3 linked regions of the Homo sapiens genome follow. The protein of the gene in region 3 interacts with the protein of the main gene of each other region in a biochemical or structural test. Each region holds a gene or a part of one and is shown on either strand. Other genes may lie near its edges.

The links.
Region 1: of the proteins of KDM5C (region 3) and CNOT4, one has a biochemical effect on the other in vitro, tested with the Homo sapiens proteins (one study listed by BioGRID).
Region 2: the proteins of KDM5C (region 3) and TRIM11 form a complex in vitro, tested with the Homo sapiens proteins (one study listed by BioGRID).

The regions. Positions count from the first base shown.
Region 1 is NC_000007.14:135,361,274-135,367,189, forward strand, and holds the end of CNOT4 (CCR4-NOT transcription complex subunit 4), read right to left. Parts: intron 2,794-5,916; coding exon 2,581-2,793; intron 1,914-2,580; coding exon 1,612-1,913; 3' UTR 522-1,611; downstream 1-521. UniProt on the Homo sapiens protein: Has E3 ubiquitin ligase activity, promoting ubiquitination and degradation of target proteins. Involved in activation of the JAK/STAT pathway. Catalyzes ubiquitination of methylated RBM15.
Region 2 is NC_000001.11:228,396,836-228,403,943, reverse strand, and holds part of TRIM11 (E3 ubiquitin-protein ligase TRIM11), read left to right. Parts: intron 1-1,782; coding exon 1,783-1,878; intron 1,879-2,749; coding exon 2,750-2,980; intron 2,981-6,778; coding exon 6,779-6,801; intron 6,802-6,834; exon of another isoform or gene 6,835-6,896; coding exon 6,897-6,997; exon of another isoform or gene 6,998-7,108.
Region 3 is NC_000023.11:53,222,167-53,230,159, forward strand, and holds the start of KDM5C (lysine-specific demethylase 5C), read right to left. Parts: upstream 3,042-7,993; 5' UTR 2,724-3,041; coding exon 2,574-2,723; intron 1-2,573. UniProt on the Homo sapiens protein: Histone demethylase that specifically demethylates 'Lys-4' of histone H3, thereby playing a central role in histone code. Does not demethylate histone H3 'Lys-9', H3 'Lys-27', H3 'Lys-36', H3 'Lys-79' or H4 'Lys-20'.

The sequences.
Region 1 (5,916 bases), on a different chromosome or scaffold from region 3:
TTTGGTCAGTGGTGCGATCGTTGCCCCATCAACAGGTACTTCCTAAAATGGTCAGTCATAAAAGATGTGTCTGTGGATCATCTACATCAGTGTTTCCCGATCTCTTTCCCATCATGGCACTCACAAAGAGATGCCACTTGTGTGACATAGTGACTGCTGCTCCTGCCAGGTCTCCCTAAAGAGAACCAACATCTCAACATGTCAATAACCTCTCCATTACTGGCACATAAGGCTTCTCAGTTGGGAAGGCTTGGCATGCATAATACAATAGCAGAAAGAGGAATCTTCTACTGAAAGGCACTGGAAGAGGGATTCTTGAGGACAAGATGGGCTGAACGTCAAGGATGCCATTGACTGTCAATAAAATGGTTGTTTCTCCTCCACTTTCTTCTTCTAAACCATCCTCCCTCCCCACTGTTGAAGATGTAAAATCAAATGGAAACATCTGATGGCTACTTGTCACAAAACCTTTCAAACTCACATCCAACAAAACAGAAAAACAAAAACAAGGACAACCCAAGTGTCACCATCAAGTTTTCTGTTTTATTTAAGATTTTAGTTTTAATTCTGAAGAAAGAGGTACATTTCCTTGTTTTTAGTTTTAGCGTCAGGTTATAACCAGGTTTCTGTTTTCTTTTCTCCTGTCTTTTCAATACTGCACAAACGTCCAGAAACTACAGGGTTAAGTAAAAGCTGCAGGCAAGGAGGTCAGAGATTTGCTCCCGATGGTGATCAGATGGCCCCAGAGCAGTGCTATCTCAGAGTGCCCTCGTCAGGTGAATTTATGGTAAAACAAAAAAGATTCCGACAGAGGAGAAGGACTGAAGAAATGACTTACATTTCAGCTCTTATATTATTAATAGGTATTAAATCTGTGAATACTTTTTTCTTTAAAACATTTCAATTTACTTTAAATCTAAAGCCAAAAAATTTTTCTCCTTTAAAAAAATTACTTCTCACCTCCTTATGAACTCTTTAGCAATCGGCCAGTTACTACTACAGATGAATTTGTCTTTCCATCAACTTCCAATACATTCTTTTGCTTAATGACACAATCAAGTCCTTGCCATCAACTTGCCAAAAGAATTAAAAATTAATTTAAATTAAAAGCATTTTCCCTGCAATAATGATAAGCTGAATACAAGATGGATGCTAGGACCACTGCTTTCCCCCATGCATTTAGCAATCTCACGTAAATGAACCTGGTTTTCAAACTTCTGCAGTTGATAATGCATTTACTTGAGCTTTCCTATAGATTAATCGTCATTTTCTGCTAAGCAGATTATGTCATTATTATGCGCAACAGACAAACAATAATTTTCTAAGTATTGAGACTGCCCTTTGATTTTTTTTTCTCTCCTTAAAAAGGCATTTTTAGAAACATTCAACAGTGTCACTCAAATGCTGGATCAACAAAAATTTTTACAATTAATAAAGAGATGGTAATGACCCTGTGATCGCATTGCATCTGGGGTTAGGGAGAAAAAAAATTGATCAGGTACTGGATTCTTCAGAACATAAGAGATGAGAAGGGAGCTGTGGGTGGTGGGCTGAGAGGGAGAAAACAGAGTGGGACAAATCCTGCATTTTCTAATGGTTGCTCCTCTTTGCCTAATGGCGGTCCAGTGTTGAACTCTGTAGTAAATCTGTGGGGGTTTTGCTGGGGGGTCTGAAGGCTGTCTGAAAGCCTGGGGGTGGGGAGTGGAAGCTGGAAGGGTTTGAAGGAGGAGGGTAGGGATTCCAACTGGCTCTGTGCAGCGGGATCTGTGTGCTGAAGGGGGCGCTGTGGTGGGTCTGTGATGGAGCAGCGCTGGGGCCGTCCATCTCTGTGAGGGCCTGAAGGGATTTTAGCCAGTGTGGAGGATTGTCATCTTGAAGAGAGTCTAAACTGTTTCCTGAAGACGCTGGAATACCTAAGGAGAGAAAAGAAAAAAGAGGGAAAATGGTGAGTTTGTGTGGAAAGAATAAGGTCGTCAAACAAATTTAGAAAGCAAAACCAAAAGGAAAGACAGAAGAGATTACAATTTTAAACTCCTTCCAAATAAGACCTTTTAAACCAATCCTCCCCCAACAACAAAGAACTTATTGGCACACAAACCCATGCCTCCTCTTGAACTAGACTTAGTCCCCCACTGTCACAGAGGCAGAGCTGCAAAACACCATTCCCCAGAACTGCCTGATGGCATTTCCCAATTGTGCTTTTCCTCCTCTGACAGGGATGCGTAACAAGACAGCCTTATAATAGAGAGCTTTATAACAAAAAGTGGAGTATGTTCCTTATAAGAAGAGTAAGTCAGATCCTTTTGTACTTTGAGGCCTACAAAATACACATGTTGCCAGATGTTAACACCTACTTAAACCAGAAGAAGCAACCTAGGCACCAAATGCCTTCTTATTAATACACAACTAGGCCGACAGGTTAAATGAGACTTGCATGACCCCTGAGAACGAAACAAGCCACTCCACACTTGCGGCTTTGTGAAAAGCAGCTTATGTTGAAGAGATCTCGGTTTTTATTTAATCTGTGCTAAAAACCAAACTGTTGGCAGTCAGTGTAGCTGAAGGGAGTGAGAAAGTTACCTGTGATGATGGCTGGGTCTGTCCAGCTGCCAGGGCTGTCCCAACTCAGGCTGTCGGTGGTGGCAGTGTTGGACGTTGGTGCACTGTGGTTGGCGTTGGAGGGGGAAGAAGAATTGGGCAGTCCACCAAAGTTGATGTTAATGTTGGGTAGAAGTGCCCTTAGCCCGTCCTGCCATTCCTTCATATTTAAACTCTCTACAGAACTGCTGTTGTCTGGGAGATTTACCAACAAAAAAATGAAAGATAAAAAAAAATAAAAAGCTACGTTAGAAACATATGTTGTTCTTTAGTGGTTAAGCGGGAGAAGAATTATTCTTTCTTTATTGAGCATTTAAAATGGGTTGTCCTAGCAAGATAAACTTGGTTAGGATTTTGCTCGTGAGCTCAGAGCCCCTGAAGTGAGGAAAAACTTGCTCAAGGATCAGGAGAGGGAGGTTCTTGTCTCTCTATAGCCTCTTCACCATTATGGGTTTGTAAATCAATAATCCAGTTTAAAGACTCAATGCTCCAGAGCACAATTTAGTTCCAGCTACATTATGAAGTTTCACTTAGTGAGGCATTTAGCCAGCTGAGCTGATTTACGCTATAAAAAAGCCAAGTCTGCAAAGTCCAATATAGGAGCTTATTTCTCAGCCCACAAATGGAAGAAAAGTCATTTTATGAAGAATAAACATAAGCAATAGAAAAAGAAAAATAATTAAGTCCTTCTTCATTATAAAACTGGCAATGTGCTTCAGAAGAGAAAAGCAGTAATGAACAGGCTTTTGAATTTGAAAAGAATGTATTTCCATTTAGTCACTAAGGCCGAGGAGGCAGGAGCTGATACCTTCTAGATGGAATAATTTCCAACACAGTCTGCCTGCTCTACTCCAACAGTTCTACCAATCATTCACAGCCTGAGTCCCGGAGTCCTACAGTTTTCTGGGTCTATTTATGAATAGTATCAAACATGAGAAGACACTAGCAACATAGAAAAGGCTTTTTATAAATTGTGACTAAACTAACTTGATCTACTACCATCCAGAATCCACATAGTATAACTAACTGGTCAGGGGGAAAAGGGTGAAGTATAACAACTACCTAATTGTTTAACAAATACTTAGATAGTTGTTTTATTTTTGAAAATAGCAATGTAAGTCAAATTACAAACTGGAGTTTTTGAAAAAAGCATAGAAAAATATTTCTGATTCTACAGAACTGATTGGCAATCAACGCTGAGAAGGAGGAGGAGGATGTTCTAACAGGCACGATCTATGCTGCTTAGCAAAATCAGAATTTTCTTTTTGAAATTTTGCTTTGCACCAACCACTGATCAATGCCAAATTATATCATGTTTCAACAAGTGAAGCATTTAACTCCATTGACCTTATTTATAAAAAGATAAAATACTACAACTAAACTGAACGAAGGTCATCTCTGAACTTATTAAGATGAAGAAAAAGCACTCTAGGCTACACAAAACAAGACAACAGAAGGGAAAATAAATTCTCCAACCCTACTTTCATTTCATAATTGATGTAATTTACTAAACCTCACATTTCTTATATTTGCATATTATTTTACATTTGTATGTGTTGTATGGTTTACAAGGCACTCTCATAGTCAATTATTTCATGTGATCTTCACAACAGCCCTGAGAGGCAGGCAGACAAGGATAATCTGCATTTACTAGATAAAGAAACAGACTCAGGAATAATTTCCCCAAGTTCACAAAACTTGTTATTGAGAACTTGAACCTGAACCCTGTCCAAAAAAAAGCAAGCAAGCTTACTCTCTCGATCTACTCTGTACAGACTATTAATTTTTTAAAGGGTCAAATATTAAAGGGAAAGCCCAGGGGAAGACCCATGATTGAAAGGAGGCAAAAGAGAAACAGAGAAGCATTATAGTGTGTCCACTGGCCATGATTAGCAGAGAGATATTGTGACTAAAGGAAGAAACTGGACTTTGCGGCCAGGAGAAAAAAATTCTGCTCAAGAATACAATCACTAGTTTCCCCCTGGCTCCCTAACTACATGAGACACAAACAAGATCATAAATATAAGTCCTAGAACACTCTCAATCACAGTAAGGTTTACGGCTATGGTACACTCTAACTTTTAAAGCAGTCCAACTGTCATGCTGAATAACTTAAAATAGCTTCCAATTAGGCAAAAGCCAAACAGGGAAAACTTCCTATAAGAAAAATAAAATCCCCCAGAAATAAAAAGATGATGTATAACTACATGGGAACATTTTCAGGAAGATAAATGATCTTACACCGAGTGGCTAATGTCCCTAAGAAGTCCATGCAAATGATCCTCCCTCTTCTACTGAATAGGGAGAGAGAGAATATCCCATAACTCAGAACAATCTGCTCCTAACTTTTGCTTTACCATTTAGTGAGCAATGAAATTGAGGAACATTTAATTTTGCATTAACAGAATAACACTTGCATTTACATAAATCTTATTTGAAAATTAGTAATAAAGTCAAAAGACAATAAAGGCAGAGGGGTTATATGACAATTCTCCGTACTTCCCACTCAGTTTTGCTGTGAACCTAAAACTACTCTAAAAAAAAGTTTGTTTTAAGGGACATTTGTTCCTGTAATTGTAGACTAATCAAATCAAGCAAGGGTATGTTAGCCAAAGAAATTCACATATGGCGCATGATGCAGAAACAGTGAGAAATTTAGATCCTCCCAGGTGCACTATGATTACAGGATACCTTGGGAAATAAATTAGCTAGTTTATAATGCAACAATCTTGACACCCCTCCTCCCCCCAAAAAATCATGTGCCTTGACATTTTGGGAGCCTGACAGCATGGATGTGGCTTACAGTAAAGCTGCAAGTGTTACAGGGAAGTAGAATGATGCTTTTAGCTCTTGGAATAGGATCATATTCCATCTAGCTTAGAAGAAAAGAAGTTTATTTCACTGTTTTTTCCACTATTGCTATGCCAAGTGCTGGCACAAAGAAAAGGTGAGAGAAAGGAAATCAGCTTAATCCTAATCCCATCAAAATAGCTCATCTCAGTCCGGCCATACCTGAAGTCACCTCCTTGATTCCCTATTCCCTCCCAATGACCCAAATTTGTCTTGGCTGCGAGGGCTTCTGGCAATTCCATTCTTTGAAACACATACAGCAGGGTTTATCAACCTCATCACCACTGACAGTTTGAACTACATAATTCTCTGTTGTGGAGTGCTGTCCTAAGCACTGTGGGAGGTTTAGCAGCATTGCCGGCCTCTACCCACTAGATGCTAGGGGTACCAACTCCCCAGTTTTGACAGCCAAAATTGTCTTTAGACGTTGAAAATGTCTTCTAGGGAAGCAAAATTGTATCCAGTTGA
Region 2 (7,108 bases), on a different chromosome or scaffold from region 3:
GTGGCTCACGCCTGTAATCCCAGCAATTTGGGAGGCCGAGGTGGGCGGATCACCTGAGGTCAGGAGTTTGAGACCACCCTGGCCAACATGGTGAAATCCCATCTGTACAAAAAATACAAAAATTAGCTGGGTGTGGTGATGGGCACCTGTAATCCCAGCTACTCAGGGGGCTGAGGCAGAAGAATCACTTGAACACAGGAGGCAGAGGTTGCAGTGAGCCGAGATCGTGCCACTGCACTCCAGCTTGGGGGACAAAGCGAGACTCCGTCTCAAAAAAAGAAAACTGAAAATGTCCCGTAGGGACTGAGGCATTGAGGGAGAAGTGAGAGGCACTGGGCCAAGTGTTTGAGGTGGGGTTGGGGTCACAGGGGCCAGGCCTGAGTTTTCTGGAACAGGTCGGCAGCAGTGAGGAGAGAGGCCTGGGGACAGGGACCGCCATTTGGGGTTCTTGTAGCTCACGTGAGAGCTGAGCCTAGGCAGAGACAGTAAAGCAGTTGGACATGTCCTTGGTGCTCCAGCGGTCTTCCCGAATCGTGAGGCCAAGTGGTGAACTAAAGTGAGCACCTGGAGCCAGGCAGCTGGGCTGAAGTCCTGGCTCTGCTACCGGGGCAGACTTCTGGACCCTCCCAGCACCTCCATCCTTCCAGAGCGTGGATAGCGAGAGATGAGAGCCAAGACTTGGGGTGGCTGAGAAGCAAAGAGGTGTGGCCAGCACAGGGCCCGTTGCTGATAAGGGTGTCAGATGGGGTGGAAGTGAGCAGACCCTTCGAGAAGTGGGTTCAGGGCACCCCAAGCACACACAGTACAGTGAGCTTGTGTACAGGATTTTCACTGCTTCCTGGTATGCACAGCATGAGGAACCGTGGGAATGAGAATTAAGGACCAAGAAAGCAGAATGGAGGTGTACCCATCCTGGAGCTTATTACAGTGATAGCTGATGAAGCTGAAAATGCACAAGGTCCCGAGTGGCTTGGAGAAAAGATAGGGTGGGTAGCCAGGCATGTCTGTCCGTGCTGACTGTCCTACCAAAACACCATGGTTTGCACATGGCAGATGTATACAAGCTGGAGACTCACAGCTCTGGAGGCTGGAAGTCTAAGATCAAGCCCTGGCAGGTTTGGTGTCTGGTGAGGGTGCTTCCTGGTTCACAGACAACACCCTCTCACTGTGTTGTCATATGGTGAAAGGGGCGAGGGTTCCTTTATAACACTAATCCCATTGTGGCGGCACTGCCCTCCTGACCTAGTCACCTCCCAAAGCCCCCGCCTCCTAACATCATCACACTGGGTGTTGGGATTTCAACCTATGAATTTGTGGGGGCATAGGGCAGAATTTTTGGACCCCAGCATAGGCTTGGTCCAAGGCCCTTATGTGAGCCAGCAGGTGAGAAGGAAGAGGAGGAGGAGTAGACACTGGCTTGGGAACAGGAGAGCTCAGCACCTTCAGAGCCAGCTTGGGGACAGATGGGGTGGGCAGCCAGAACCCTTGAGGTAGCTTTGCAAAGGGGGGTGAGGCCTGGGCTAGGGTAGCAAGGTCGAGGACTAGAAATGCCCCATATGAGAAAAAGGAAAGAATGTGGCTGGGGCTGTCAGCCTCTGGCAAGAGGCTGCCCACCTACCATGAGGGCTCACGCTTATTGGAGGGCATTGAGTTCCCTGATTCACCAGGCAGATTTCAGTTTGTCCCCATTGTCTTTGAGGAGGGGACAGGGTGTCAGGTGCAAAAGGGCAGGCTTCTGTGACAGGACTCATGTCTCATGGTCCTGCCTGGCCTCTCCCGCAGGCGAAGCTGGAGAAGTCACTGGAGCATCTCCGGAAGCAGATGCAGGATGCGTTGCTGTTCCAAGCCCAGGCGGATGAGACCTGCGTCTTGTGGCAGGCAGGTGCTGGGGCTCCCAGGGTCCTGGGTGGCAGGGTAGGGGGTGAAGGTCCTGTATAGGAGACCCCAGGGGGCGATGCTGGCCAGGCACACTTGCCCTTGGCGCCCCAGGACCAGTCACTGCTTCAGCCTGGCCCCACCGAGCCCACTGAAGGGCTGGTCCTTTCCCACGTGCACCTGTCCTGCCAGGTCGTGGGCGTGGGCTCCCATACTGCAAGGGCCCCATCCTGGGGTCCCAGCATGCTTGGGTGGCAACTCTCAGGTGTATTTAGGGTCTGGGCCCTGGAGGTAAATTTGGAGGTTTTGAGGGACTAGGTCATAGATGTGGGATTCAGCCATCCTGAGGAGTAGATTTGGGATCTGTCCAGTTCTGGGGTAGATTTGGGGTCTGGGAGGCTCTGGGTGGTGGATTTGGGATCTGGGAAGCCCCAGGGGAGAATTTGGAGGTCAGGAGGGACCCTGGGTGGTAGATTTGTAGTCCAGCTGGCCCCAGGTGGTAGATGCAGGGTTCTACCAAGCCAATGGGTGGATTTGGAAGTTGGGGAGGGACTAGATAGTGGATTTGGGATCTAGTCGGCCCTGGGTTTAGATTTGGGGTCTAGCCAGTCCTGTGTGGTAGAATGGGATTTGGCTCTCCCTGAGTGGTGGATTTGGGGTTTGGGAGGTGCCACAGGTGGGTTTGGGGTCTGGCCAGCACCAGGTGGTGGGTTTGGGGTCCTGCCACACCTGGTGCTGTGCTTTGGCTTTAGCAGGCCCCGGGGGTGGGGTTGGGTGCAGCCAGGCCTCTGGGTGGGCTTGGGGTCTGACCAAACTTGGGGTCTGGCTGGGCCTGGGGTCTGGCCTCAGCTGTCCTTCTCCCTGGGCTCCACAGAAGATGGTGGAGAGCCAGCGGCAGAACGTGCTGGGTGAGTTCGAGCGTCTTCGCCGTTTGCTGGCAGAGGAGGAGCAGCAGCTGCTGCAGAGGCTGGAGGAGGAGGAGCTGGAGGTGCTGCCCCGGCTGCGGGAGGGCGCAGCCCACCTAGGCCAGCAGAGCGCCCACCTAGCTGAGCTCATCGCCGAGCTCGAGGGCCGCTGCCAGCTGCCTGCTCTGGGGCTGCTGCAGGTGAGCTGGGCGGGGAGCAGCCATGGTGGCCACACGGGCATGGCCTGGCCACACTGGGGGAGGGAGAACCAGAAAGTGCAAGAAGCAGGGGCAGAGAGGTTGTCTGGGCTGAGAGGTGAATGGCATGGCTGGATGTGCCTGGCTGTTGCCTGTGAAATGCTGAGTCAGCAGCAGGACAGATGTCCCACCCCCAAAACCCACGTGCCGAGAAAGGGAAAATCAATTTTCCTCTGTAGATGTAAACAGTTGATGTTTCTTAAGTGATTACATAAGGTCACTCCATCTCGTCCTGACTGACACTGCTGCTCCCTGTGGGCACAGCAGAGTGGGCATGTGCTCGCTGGGACCACCTTGGGCCTCCCATAGGATTCCTGCCATGGTGTCCCCAGCAGGAAGTCCTCGCCCTTCACTCTGTCTTCACCCCGCTGGCACACCCCATGCATCTCCATTATGGGGGGCAGTCTCCTCCTCCTCTGCTTCCAGGAGAGTCTTTTCCCATGTGTGGGCTCCACTCCCTGAGCCGGCCCCCTGGGCCTGGGCTTTCCTTGGTGCACCCCCAAACCAGAACCAGTGGACGCCCTGGCCTGTGGCCTGGCGGCAGGTCAGGGGGCCTGGAGTCAGCTCTCTCCGCTTGGCAAGCGTGCACTGATGAGGACTGACGGCACTCCCATGCTGAGAGGCCCCGTGTGGGCTGGGAGTGTCTGCTATCATCTTCCCGTGGGGTTCAGCTGGATGTTTTTCCCACAAAATGGAGAACGTGTTCCATGCCCAGCATGGTGTAGACTCAAGGGGCCCCAAGATTCAGAGGGAAATGGGCCCCTGGGCAATTCTGGCTCCCACAGAGGAGAGAGGCCGTGTGTGAGTGAATTCAGCCACTGGTGGGGCAGGGCTGCCAGACCCAGGTGGAGCCCACAATGCTGCAGATGTGGCTGGGCGGCTTTGCACAGGGGGTGACCTGCTGCCGGCCTCTGGAGCCCAGCAGAACATCAGTCCAGGCACCGGCTCCTGGTTTCGATTGTCATTTCTATTGTAAGCTTTTTTCTGTTTTTTTGTTTTTTGTTTTTTTTTTTTTGTTTTTTTTTTTGTAGATTTAAGGGGTACAAGTGCAGTCAGAGTGTAGCCATCACCCGAATGGTGCACACTGTACCCAGTAGGTAGTTTCCCCCACCTCCAAGTCTGCAGCATCTGCTCCTCCACTCCGTGTGCCGCGTGCACCAGCTTGGACATCAGCTGGCTTTGAGCCTGGGAAGCGGGAAGGACGCTCGGCTAGCGTCTGTAGAAAGACTGAGGAATATTAGGAGAGGGTCCTGTGGTCAGTAAATTGTGGGGTGGGGAGGTACCCAGAAGACTGAGGAGGAGCCCTCAGGGAGGGCAGAGAGGACAGGTGTTGGAGAAGCCAGGAAGGGTTTAGAAGGAAGGTGAGTTGACCTGGAAATGGGGACCCACAGGGTTTGTGTGAAGATGCAATTTGGGCTTTCAGCTGAGACATTGTGGCATGTGGGCGGGTGGGTGGGTGTTGGGTCTCATACACCCACCTGCATTCACCCCGCTGAGTGGCCCACCCGTCCATGCCTTGGCCAAGCTCCCTGCCCAGGTTTGGCCTGGCTACAAGGCTTCAGGGAGGTCCCTCCTGTCCCCCCAACCTGCCAGCACATGGCCTGCATGCTGTGGGGGTCTGCCCACATGGGGGTTGCAGGAGAGCAGCCTCAGCAGCTCTGTGTTGATGTGAGCTGTGTGCTGGTTTGAGAGGGACAGGTGGGGATGGCTTTGCACCCTTGGCCCCCGGTTGGGTAGGGGAACCCAACCCGGGTTCCCAGCACCCAGGCCGAATGGACAGGGGTTGCACAGTGGAGGTAAAGGCTTGAGTGACTCCCAGGAATCCACCCACTGGGGCTCTGGCTGCTGTGGACTCTGGGGCCCTGGCTGCTATGGACTCTGGGGTCCTGGCTGCCCCCTTCAGCAGGCCCTGCTTGTAGCCGCAGAGTGGTTTTGTTCAAGTCAATGCTGCCCCTGGAGGGCCCGTGTTCTGTGCAGAGACCAAACCCCCTTGTCGAGGCCAAGGTTCTCCTCTACCCCCAAGCCCTTCTCCTGCCGCCCCTGCACCCGGCCTTGTGACAGCCACCACCTGTTTCCAAATGACACCAGGGGTGGGCCGCCCACCCCAGGTAGAATAACCAAGGTGGAGCTGCTCCCAGCTGCCTTGCTCACACCAGCACCATCTGCCCCTGCCCTGTGCACACCCCTCCCTCACCCTGCGCACTCCCCCTGTGTCTACCAACAAATTCTTCTTGGGCTTCAGAACCCTACCAAGAGTCTCCTCTTTATTTATTTATTTATGAATTATTTATTGAGACAGGGTCTCACTCTGTCGCCCAGGCTAGAGTACAGTGATGTGATTATGACTGCAGCCTCGATGTCCTGGGCTGAAGCGATCCTTCCATCTCAGTCCCCTGAGTAGGTGGGACTGTAGGCACACACCACCAAGCTCAGCTAATTTTAAAATTTTTTTTTAGAGATGGGACCTTGCTGTGTTGCCCAGGCTGGTCTTGAACTCCTGGACTCAAGTGATCTGCCTGCCTTGGCCTCCCAAAGTGCTGGCCTCCTTTTTAAAAAATTTTTGGGGCCTAGAGTGTGTTGTTGTCCCCCTAGACAGAATTAACTACCCGTATGTGTGGAAATCTTCCTTTGCCATTTCTCCTACATGTAGGGAAACCCTTGTCTGGGATTATGTCTTACTGACCTCTGCATCCTGGCCTGGTAGCTGGCACCACGTGTGTTAGAATGAACATGGTGTGGGATCGTCTATTTGACAGTGTGGGTTAAATCCTTGCAGTGCACTGAAGACTGCTCTAAGAGATACAAGACCGTGTCTCCTAAGAGCTGATGTTCCAATACCTGGGTGTATCACGCCAGCTCGGGCTGCCACATTTAGTACCACCTGCCAGGAGGCTTCCCCAGCAGAGACTGATTGTCTCCCAGTCCTGCACACTGGAAGACTGAGGTCAAAGCTGGTTCCCCCTGAGGCCTATCTCTTGGGCCTGTAGATGCCTTTTCTTCCCTGTATCCTCACAGGGTCTCCCCTCTGTGGGTGTCTGTGTCCTAGTCGCCCCTTCTTATGAGACTCAAGTTATTTTGGATTGCAGCCCACCCTAATGGCCTCATTTTACTATGATTTCCTCTTTAAAAGCCCTTTTTTCTAATAGTCAAGTTCTGAAGTCCTGAAGTTTCTGGCTTCAACATACGGATTTGGCGGGATGGACACAATTCGGGCCCTAACATGGAGTCAGATGCTATCACGTATCAGGCAGTGACACAGGAAGGACGCACGCCCAAGAGTGGGGCTGAGCAGGGAGCCTGCAGGGCAGGTGGAGCTGGGAGAGGAAGCAGTGCAACCACAGGGTTGGGCTCCAGCTGGGGTGGAGGTGCCCCTATGCTGAAGGCTGGGATGTGTGCCTGTCCTGTCCTTGGCACCCAGAGGCGCCCACTTGGGGCTCTGGGTGAGTGAGCCAACAGCCAGATGCCCTACATCCAAGTGTCAGGCAGAAGTGGGCCTTGGTCCGCAGGGCTGGGCTGCACCCCATTGGTGATGCCTCCTGGCACACATGTCAGAGCCTCTGTCCAGCATTCCTGTGTCTGAGCCTTGCTGCGGGTGGTTTATGGCCCCCTGTGTGTGTTTTTGCTGCCTGACGCTCAAATGTAGGAGAGGGGGACGGGGCGAGGCTCCAGGGGCGGGGAGGGGACTCCAGGAGCAAGCGATGGTCACTGACACCGAGTGTGCTGTTTCTCCTCCCCACATAGGACATCAAGGACGCCCTGCGCAGGTACGAACCCAGCCTCTCCTGGAGGGGGGGCAGGAGGGAGTGGGGTGGGACCCAGCTGTTGGCCATGGCGACAACACCTGGGTTGTCCCCTCTAGGGTCCAGGATGTGAAGCTGCAGCCCCCAGAAGTTGTGCCTATGGAGCTGAGGACCGTGTGCAGGGTCCCGGGACTGGTAGAGACACTGCGGAGGTTTCGAGGTAGGTGTGGAGGCCCCAGGTGGGGAGATGACTCCAGGAGGGGACCTGCCAAGGACCTGGGCAGCCAGCCACGTGTTCTGTGCCCTGCCACTGCCAGCTCCAAACTCACAG
Region 3 (7,993 bases):
TTCATACATACATGCATACACGTGGGCGGGGGGGAGAGACAGTGAAAGAGAAGAAAAACTGTTGACCTCTTCTGCACACACACTTTTAGAAAATGGGCTAGAGGACTCATATTTTGCATGCATACACAGACCACACTCCCCTGCCCCTACCAGCCAAAGCAGGTGGCAAACATCTGGGGCTCAGTAAGCAGGGACAAAAAAAAAAAAAAACAGGCAGGCCAAAATGGTATGGCTCAAATCCAGACAAGCTCCCCATGCCCTCTTGCCTCTCATCAGGATAGGGCACTCCCCTCAGCACAGGTAACCCAGCTAAAAAGGTGCTCAAACCCAAAACTCCGGGCACCCTTCTTTCCTGCTGAATCAAGTTCTAGACAATCAGTGCAACATCAAGCACCTGACAGGAAATGGCAGCCCTGGAATGCTACGGCAGGAGCCATGGATGCAACAGATACCTGGGAAGGCCCTGCAAACCGCCTGCCTTCATCTCCAGACTACTGTATGCCAAATGTATGTTGGTATTACTGGGATGTGGTGATAAAAAAAAGGCTGGCTACCTGATGAAGAAAGCAAGATCCTTCCAAACTCCACTGGGTCTACTCAGGGTACCCACACTCTCCTCCCACCCATCTTTCCCAAGCGTAGCAGTCACCTGCCCAGCAATTCAGGCCCCAAACCATCCTTCCTCCAGCAAACCTCCAATTCCCAGGTACCCACCCATATACAGGTTCCCACCCTGGGCCCAAGCATCACTTGAGCGAGTACTTCAAACTTCAACCAGAAGAAGGCCAGCTGCCTAAAGGTGGCCTAGGAGCTGCCATAGAGAAGGAAAAAACAAAACCAAACCAGAGAGCCAGGTATCCTGGATTAGAGAGAAGCACACTGTTGAGCAGTGAAAAGGACGGCCTCCTGCTGGCCATGCACACCTGGGACATGTCACTCTTCCCCTTCCTGATGCCCCAAAGCAGGGTAACAACACCTACACAAGGCCAGCCTGCCTAAGTCAGTCCAAGATAGAAAAAAGGAATTCAGGCCTCAACTACCCCCTACGTCAGCTATGCCTCTTTTTCCCACAGGCTTGCCCAACCACTTCAGGGAGTGCCTCCTTGAGGCTGCCCAGGACTCCTGCCTCTCCCTTCCACTAGCCTTCCTGACCCTCTACCCACTGCCACTCCCTCACCATGGACAAGGATACCTCAGAAATCTGTGGCCAGACTCCAAGAAGGAAGAAATTCGCTTACCCAACACCTCCTAGAGGATCTATCTGAAACCATCCTAGATCTGTGGCTGAGCACCAGAAAGCACCAAGTTGGATAAGGAGGCCTGTGGTGCCCTCCTCAGGTGGGAATGAAGCTTCCTATTCCATTTCAGCCAGGAGACACCCACTCAAAAACACCCTTTTCCAGCAAAGCTCAATTTCTGCCCTTGGAATCCCAACTGATCACTGAACATTATCATCACTTTTCCACCATATCAGCAAGGCAGCAGCTTGCCCTAGCCCTTGGGAGACTTCTAGCCTGAAGCCAGGCCTAGGAGGAAAGCTATGGCCTTTGTTGCTGACCCCTGGCAATCATGTTCCAAAAGGGACAGAATTCCATGGCTCCATTCTGTTCTGCGGGCCCAAGAGTGCCCTATCCTCTGGGATCTCCTACATCCTGGACCAGAGGAGAGTAGAAATCTTCTGAGAAGGACTCACACCCCACCACCAAGCTGACCGGTCCAAACATCTCCATAGGAAGTCAAGTCTGCGGGATGATGTGCAGAAAAGGCCTTGACATTGCCTTCAACGAGGAAAAGAAGAGGACAATTCCCTGAACCCACCTCAAGGGAGACAGAGCAATCCCTGTGAGACTGATTTCCTGACTGGTCCAGCAGGCCAGGATATTATCATAGATGAATTGGCCTGGCAAGGTATGAGTAAATATGAGTCAACCTACATAGGAATAAACCAATGACCACATCAAACACCCTCACAGTCACAATAATTACCACTTATCTAGTGCGTACTACATACAGACGCTACCTAGTTTAATTCAATCCTCTAAATAACCATTTCTGGGATCCATTTCACGGGCTCAGAGAGATTACTTCTACTTTCCCAAGGTCACACAGCTGCTCAGCTTCAAAGTGGAGTTTTGAACTCAAGTCTGTCTCCCTTCAGGACTGCGATCTTTCTATTAATACTATACTATGCTGCCTGCCTTAAAGGAAGTGATGACAACAGATTGGAGAAACGTCTTATTTTTACAGCCTCGACCTAGGTGGCCCGGGCTAAGAGATGTGCGGGGTGCCTCTCTGTGAACTCCCTCCGGCCCACTAGGAATCCCTGTCTTAAACCCGGAGTGATTCTGAAGGGCCGGGGTGGGGGTGGATCTCTGACTCCAGGTCACCTGTGGGCCTCACACCACGAGAGGACCCCTGGCCCAACACCCTTTTTCCGATCCGCGCCGCAACCACAACGGTCCCAGCCACCCCCTCTCCCCACCTCGAGCTGCCCTCCGCCCCAGACTTCGCCGCTGGCTATCCTACTGCTTCATTCCGTCTCGCCGCCGGCGAAAACCGGCCCCGGGGCTTACCGCGGGTGGGCGGATCTTGCAAATGCCCGATTTCTCTGCGATGGGCCTGATTTTCGCGATGTAGCCAAGAGGGTCTCGGAACTCGGCCCAGCTAGGCTCGAACACCGGGCACTCCGGTGGCGGTAGGAAATCGTCGGACCCCGGCTCCATGGTGGGCCCGAGGTCTGGGCCAGGGATCGGGAGGCTTGGACCGCCCTTAAGGACTCATGGCGCCGCCGCTGTTTGAAGCCGAGGCAATGCTCGGAGGCTAGGCCCTAAGCGGGGCAGCCGCCGCCCGCCGAGGGCCTAAGGGGGCGTGTGGCCGTCGTGCTCTGAGAGTCTCAGGCTGACTCTACTGCTACCGCCTCTTCGTCCCGCTCCGTTTCTTCCAAACTGTGTGGTTGCCTCCCCACTACCGCAGCCTTCGCCACCACAGTTACCTCCCAAACGCCGCGGCCTTCAGCGCCGCCGCCGCCATCTTGGTTTGTCAGCGTCTCCCCTCCCCACACCACAACAAACCGGATCCTTCCGCGGGGTGTCCTTCCGAGCCTCGTATACGTTGCGTCACACCAAGCCCTAGGAAACCTTCATATAGTGGAGACCGAGCTAAATAGGCTGGTATGGGTTTCTATTTGGAAGGGGTTACTCAAAAGTACCACCCCGGACTGAGAGAAAATAGTTCATTGCAACGGCGGAGGAACAAGATTGTAATTAGTTTGCCGGATCGTCTTTCCGGATGGACCGGCGGTGCACGTTTAAAGGCCAGTGATGCGCATGCGCGTTATGGAGACCGGAAGAGGAGCTGGTGTCCGTGGGTGGTGGAGTCAAACCGGCACTCCCCCGCAGACCTCAACCAGGTCGCTAGCCCCGCACCAGTGTTCTCTGTCCCTTCTCCCTGGTCTTAACGGTATGGGCCGCGGAAGGCGGCTCTGGGAGCCTGATTGCAAAGGACCCCTTATGCTGGCCCGCGGGATGGGGGGAGATGTACTAGGCTCCAGCTCTAGACACTGACACCTCTGGGGCTTTGAAATAAGGAAGGCAGGAAGCTGCTCACTCCCCGGGGATTATGGATTTTTAGGATTCTGAGTCCCAAGTAAAGGAAGGAAATCTTTATTTCATCCAAGGTTACAGGTAGAGAGATGGGGTTTCGATTCTTACCCCCCAAAAGTCACTGGGAGTCAGCATTTTAATGAACGCTTTCAACTGTTCTGTATTCACTTTTACCATGTACACATTTGTGGCATATACTCCTACAAAATAAGCCTGTGTGTATGTATACTTTAACTATTGGATGTTTAGCAACGGCGTATTTATCCAGTGTCAACTGTGTAAAACACCTGTTTGCCCATTTGTGAGCCTACAGTGCACTTACCAAACATCCGTGTACTTTTATTGTATTTATTGTGTATAGCCCCTGTGCATTTGGTACCAACTGTATGTACATTTAGTCCTATCGTGTGCATGTTCCTTGAGCAGTTTCTGAATAGGTTCATTGCAACTACAGTACTTTGAATGAGTATCATCAAACCAGTACTTTGTACATATACATCAGGCATCTACTGATTGGAGGATCATCTGTGTCATTCATCAGCTGTGGACCTACTGCATATAGTTTGAACACCTACTGTGCAAATATTTGAGTACTTGCGTACATGCTGATTAAGTAATTTTGTTTTCCCCCATCAGACTATGAATTCCTTAAGGGCAGGGACCATGTGGCCTTATACATCCTTAGCACTTGGCATGTTAAGCAGTAAATGAATGTTGAGTAAACAAAAGAAAAATGAATAAATGTCCTTAGTATATATTGACTGAAAAATATGAATACTTTTTGCAAACATTTCCTGTTTAACATATTAAACATCCACTGTAAGCTCGAGGCAGATAGGGAGTGTCATACCTTCGTGCAGTTAACTGTTCCTAATCAGATACTGTGCCAATTAGGTCCATCCTGCCTACTTCAGGACTGAGCTAAGGACATCCTGGCTGAGGGAACAGGGCACACAGGTAGGAAGGAGCTCATGCCCTGGGCTCAAAAGAGTCATGCCTTGCAGTCCCACCAGCTCTGCCATTTTCTAGTTTGTAACCTTGAACAAGTCCCAACTTCTGTAACTGAAATGGGGATAATACATACCTTGCAGAATTGTTGTGTACTTGGCACATAGCAGGCCCTCAGTATCTGGTAGCTGTTATTTTTATTTCTGAGAGTCAACAACCAATATGCCAAAACTCATTAAGAATCTCCTTTGTGTCAGACACTGTGCTAGTGCTTTTGTATTTTTTTTTTTATCACCTGAATCCTTATATTACCTTGAATGTTCAAGATCTTTATCCCCACTTGGCTCGTGTGGAGACTTGTCCCAAGTGACACAGATATTAAGTGACATCTTTCTAGTTTTCTAGGTGTCAGGGGAAACCTCAGCCCCTCTCCACCAGAAACACAGGTGGATGATCCAACTGAACAGCTGTCTGGACAGGAAGCAGGAAAACTAGGCAAAGTGATGCTAATCACAGTAATATCACTAGCCTCTCACATGGATAAGCATCTAATTGCCTACATGGCTAGTTCATACCAATTATTTCCCTTAATCTTTGCAACAGTCTTCAGAAAGATGTAGGTGAATTTACCCAGTCTGTAGATGAGGAACCAAGTTCCAGAAAGATTAAACAACTTGCCCAATGATACACAGGAAGTTGCTGACTCTGGTCAAATGCTCTTCCTGTCGTTTGCCCTCACCAGGAGTGGAGGAGGTGAGGGAAAAGGGAGCTGCTGGGGTGGGAGGTAGAGTGGTGGGGCAGGGCCCAGTCCTTGGCAATATGGGGCATGCAGGGCCTGGAGCTTGGACTGCCCATCGGGCAGCACCCCCAGGCCACCGTGGCTGTGACCGTGATGGTGGTAGTGGTGGTGGTGCGTGGAAGAAACAGATGAAAAGGAGGCAGAGGCCTGGCCAGAGAAGGGTGAGGAGAATCTAGAAGGTGGGAGAATACGGTAGATCTTAGGCCGAAGGAAGTTCAGCCTTTCCATCTAGAGGCTCAAGGAAGTACAAAGAGCATGAATCAGGAATCAGGAGGCCAGATTTTGGGTCTCAGCTCTGCACAGTCTTCCTACAGCCTTCTTTGAGGTCCTTTAGCCCAGACACACCCGTCCTAGAAGATTAAATAGAAATTATGTAGTCTTTGAAGCCAATGAGATAGAATTTATTCGTTTACAAATATTTATTAAATTTCTACTATGCACCAGCAAATTTTCTGGGCACTGGGAATATAATGGTGACCAAGACAGATGTAGTCTCTACTTTCCTGGAGCTGACATGCACCCACTGAGATCTGCCAAGTACCTCATCTTCCTGAGCCTTGATTTTCTCCTTTGTATAATGAAGCTAAATAATCCCTTCCTCACAGTGTTGTTAGGAGGATTAGAGATAATGATGACTGCCATTCATCAAGGGCCAGGTGCTATGAAGTAGGTATTGTTATCCCCATCCTACAGATGAGGAAACTGAAGCTCAGGGAAGTGTAAACTTACTCAAGTCACATGGCTAGTAAGTGGCAGGACCAGAACTCAAACCCAGGTCTGTCTGACTGCCGTACAATTCTGCCTGTAAGAGTCTCAGATGGTGCTCCCCATGTAGTAAGGCATTCAGGAAATGGGTTTGTTCCCCAAGCCATGGGTCTTGCTGGGGGACAACCGGAGTCTAGACGCTGGGGACTTAAGAATTGGGATGCATCAGGAAACTCACTCCAGGCTGGGGGCTGGCTTGGCCTCACCCATCCACCCGGGAGACAGGGTCTGACATGGAGTTGGTGCAGAGCAGTGACTGGAAGGCTCGTCTGGGCTCAAAACCACACGCACCCCATTCATGTTTTGTGGATCAACTGGGCTGACACTGACTTTGTGTCTCACTTTTTTTGGTTTGTAAAATATGATCTCTTCCAGTTCTGAAGTAGGTTTAAGCTGTTGGTTCTGATTCCTAAATAGCTCTAGAATCCATCCCCTCCTCCTTGCCATCTTCCACTCCTCCTGTGAGCCTTTTACTGTCTCTAGCCTGGACTCTTAAAAGAGCCTCCTCAAGGTATCTGTGTGAACTCATGGTTTATTAGACAGAGACAGAGAAATATCGATGTCTAGTATAGAAATATAGATGTATAGTATGTGCTTATACATATACATAACAATAAAATGATTTATCCAAAGTAATGTTAATTCAAAATGAATTATGATAGTAGTGGATTACAACTCACTGGTTAAAATAAAAATCCATGACTCCACATTGATATAAGTAAATAAAGTGAGAGAAAAGGGAAAGTAGAATTCTAAATTATATAGAAGGAATGATGGAGCTAGAAATCATCAATGGATGCTCAAACCTTTGCAAAATAAAAGAGCAAGCTCTTAAAATATTGCTGTAACACCTAGTGCCCAAATCTTGGTTTCTAAATGTCATTCTCTACTAAAAAGAACCGGGGCTCCTTGGAAGGGCTCAGAAAAAGATGGAGATGTGCCACAGGACACAGGGGCTTAGAGGGCTTCCTACTGGCCAAATCTGGGGCTGTGAACATCAAAATAAAGAATGATGTTAATGGGTTATATATAACCCATTGAGTAAAATAAACAATCATTAAGTCCATAAGGATATAAATAAATAAATGTAGAAGGGAAAGCCCTCCCTTATAGTGGAAAGCCAACTAAGACATGCCCAGGCTGGGGGCAGTGGCTCATGCCTATAGTCCCAACACTTTGGGAGGCTGAGGTGGGAGGACTGCTTGAGGCCAGGAGTTTGAAACCAGCCTGGGTAACCTAGCAAGACCTCCATCTCTACAAAAAATTTTTAAATTAGCTGGGCATGGTGGTGTGTGGCTGTGGTCCCAGCTACATGGAAGGCTGAGGTGGGAGGATCGCTTGAATCCAGGAGTTCGAAGCTGCAGTGAGCTATGATCGCACCACTGCACTGGGCAATGGATGAGACCCTGTCTCAAAAAAGAAAAAAAAAAGACATATTGAAAGAATGACGGCATTTGAAAATCACCATTTGACAGCCTCAGCCATAATAATTGTTCCAGCGAACGCTAAAACTAGTGAGTAAAATTTAAGGAGTAACAACATTTCCATTCATGTCTCCACAAGATACTCATCCACTACAACGGGGAAAGTGGTAACTTTACAGTGCAGGTACTAGATAGCCCAATTTGTTATCTGGTCTTACTTTAGCTGCTGCTGAGGCCAGCGTGACAAATCTGTTGGCAACAGAGTAACAGGGAGTGGCTGGGGAGACCCGCCTGTCTCCACGCGGTGCCATGTGCTGTGCCCACCGCTGGAGCTCCAGCTCCCATTCCTTTCTTACGGTGCCACTAACACATTGCATTCTCTCGCATCTCCAGGCCTTTTCATGCGCTGCTCCCTCCCTCCCTTCTCTATCAGGCTAAGTCCTACTCGCCCTTCA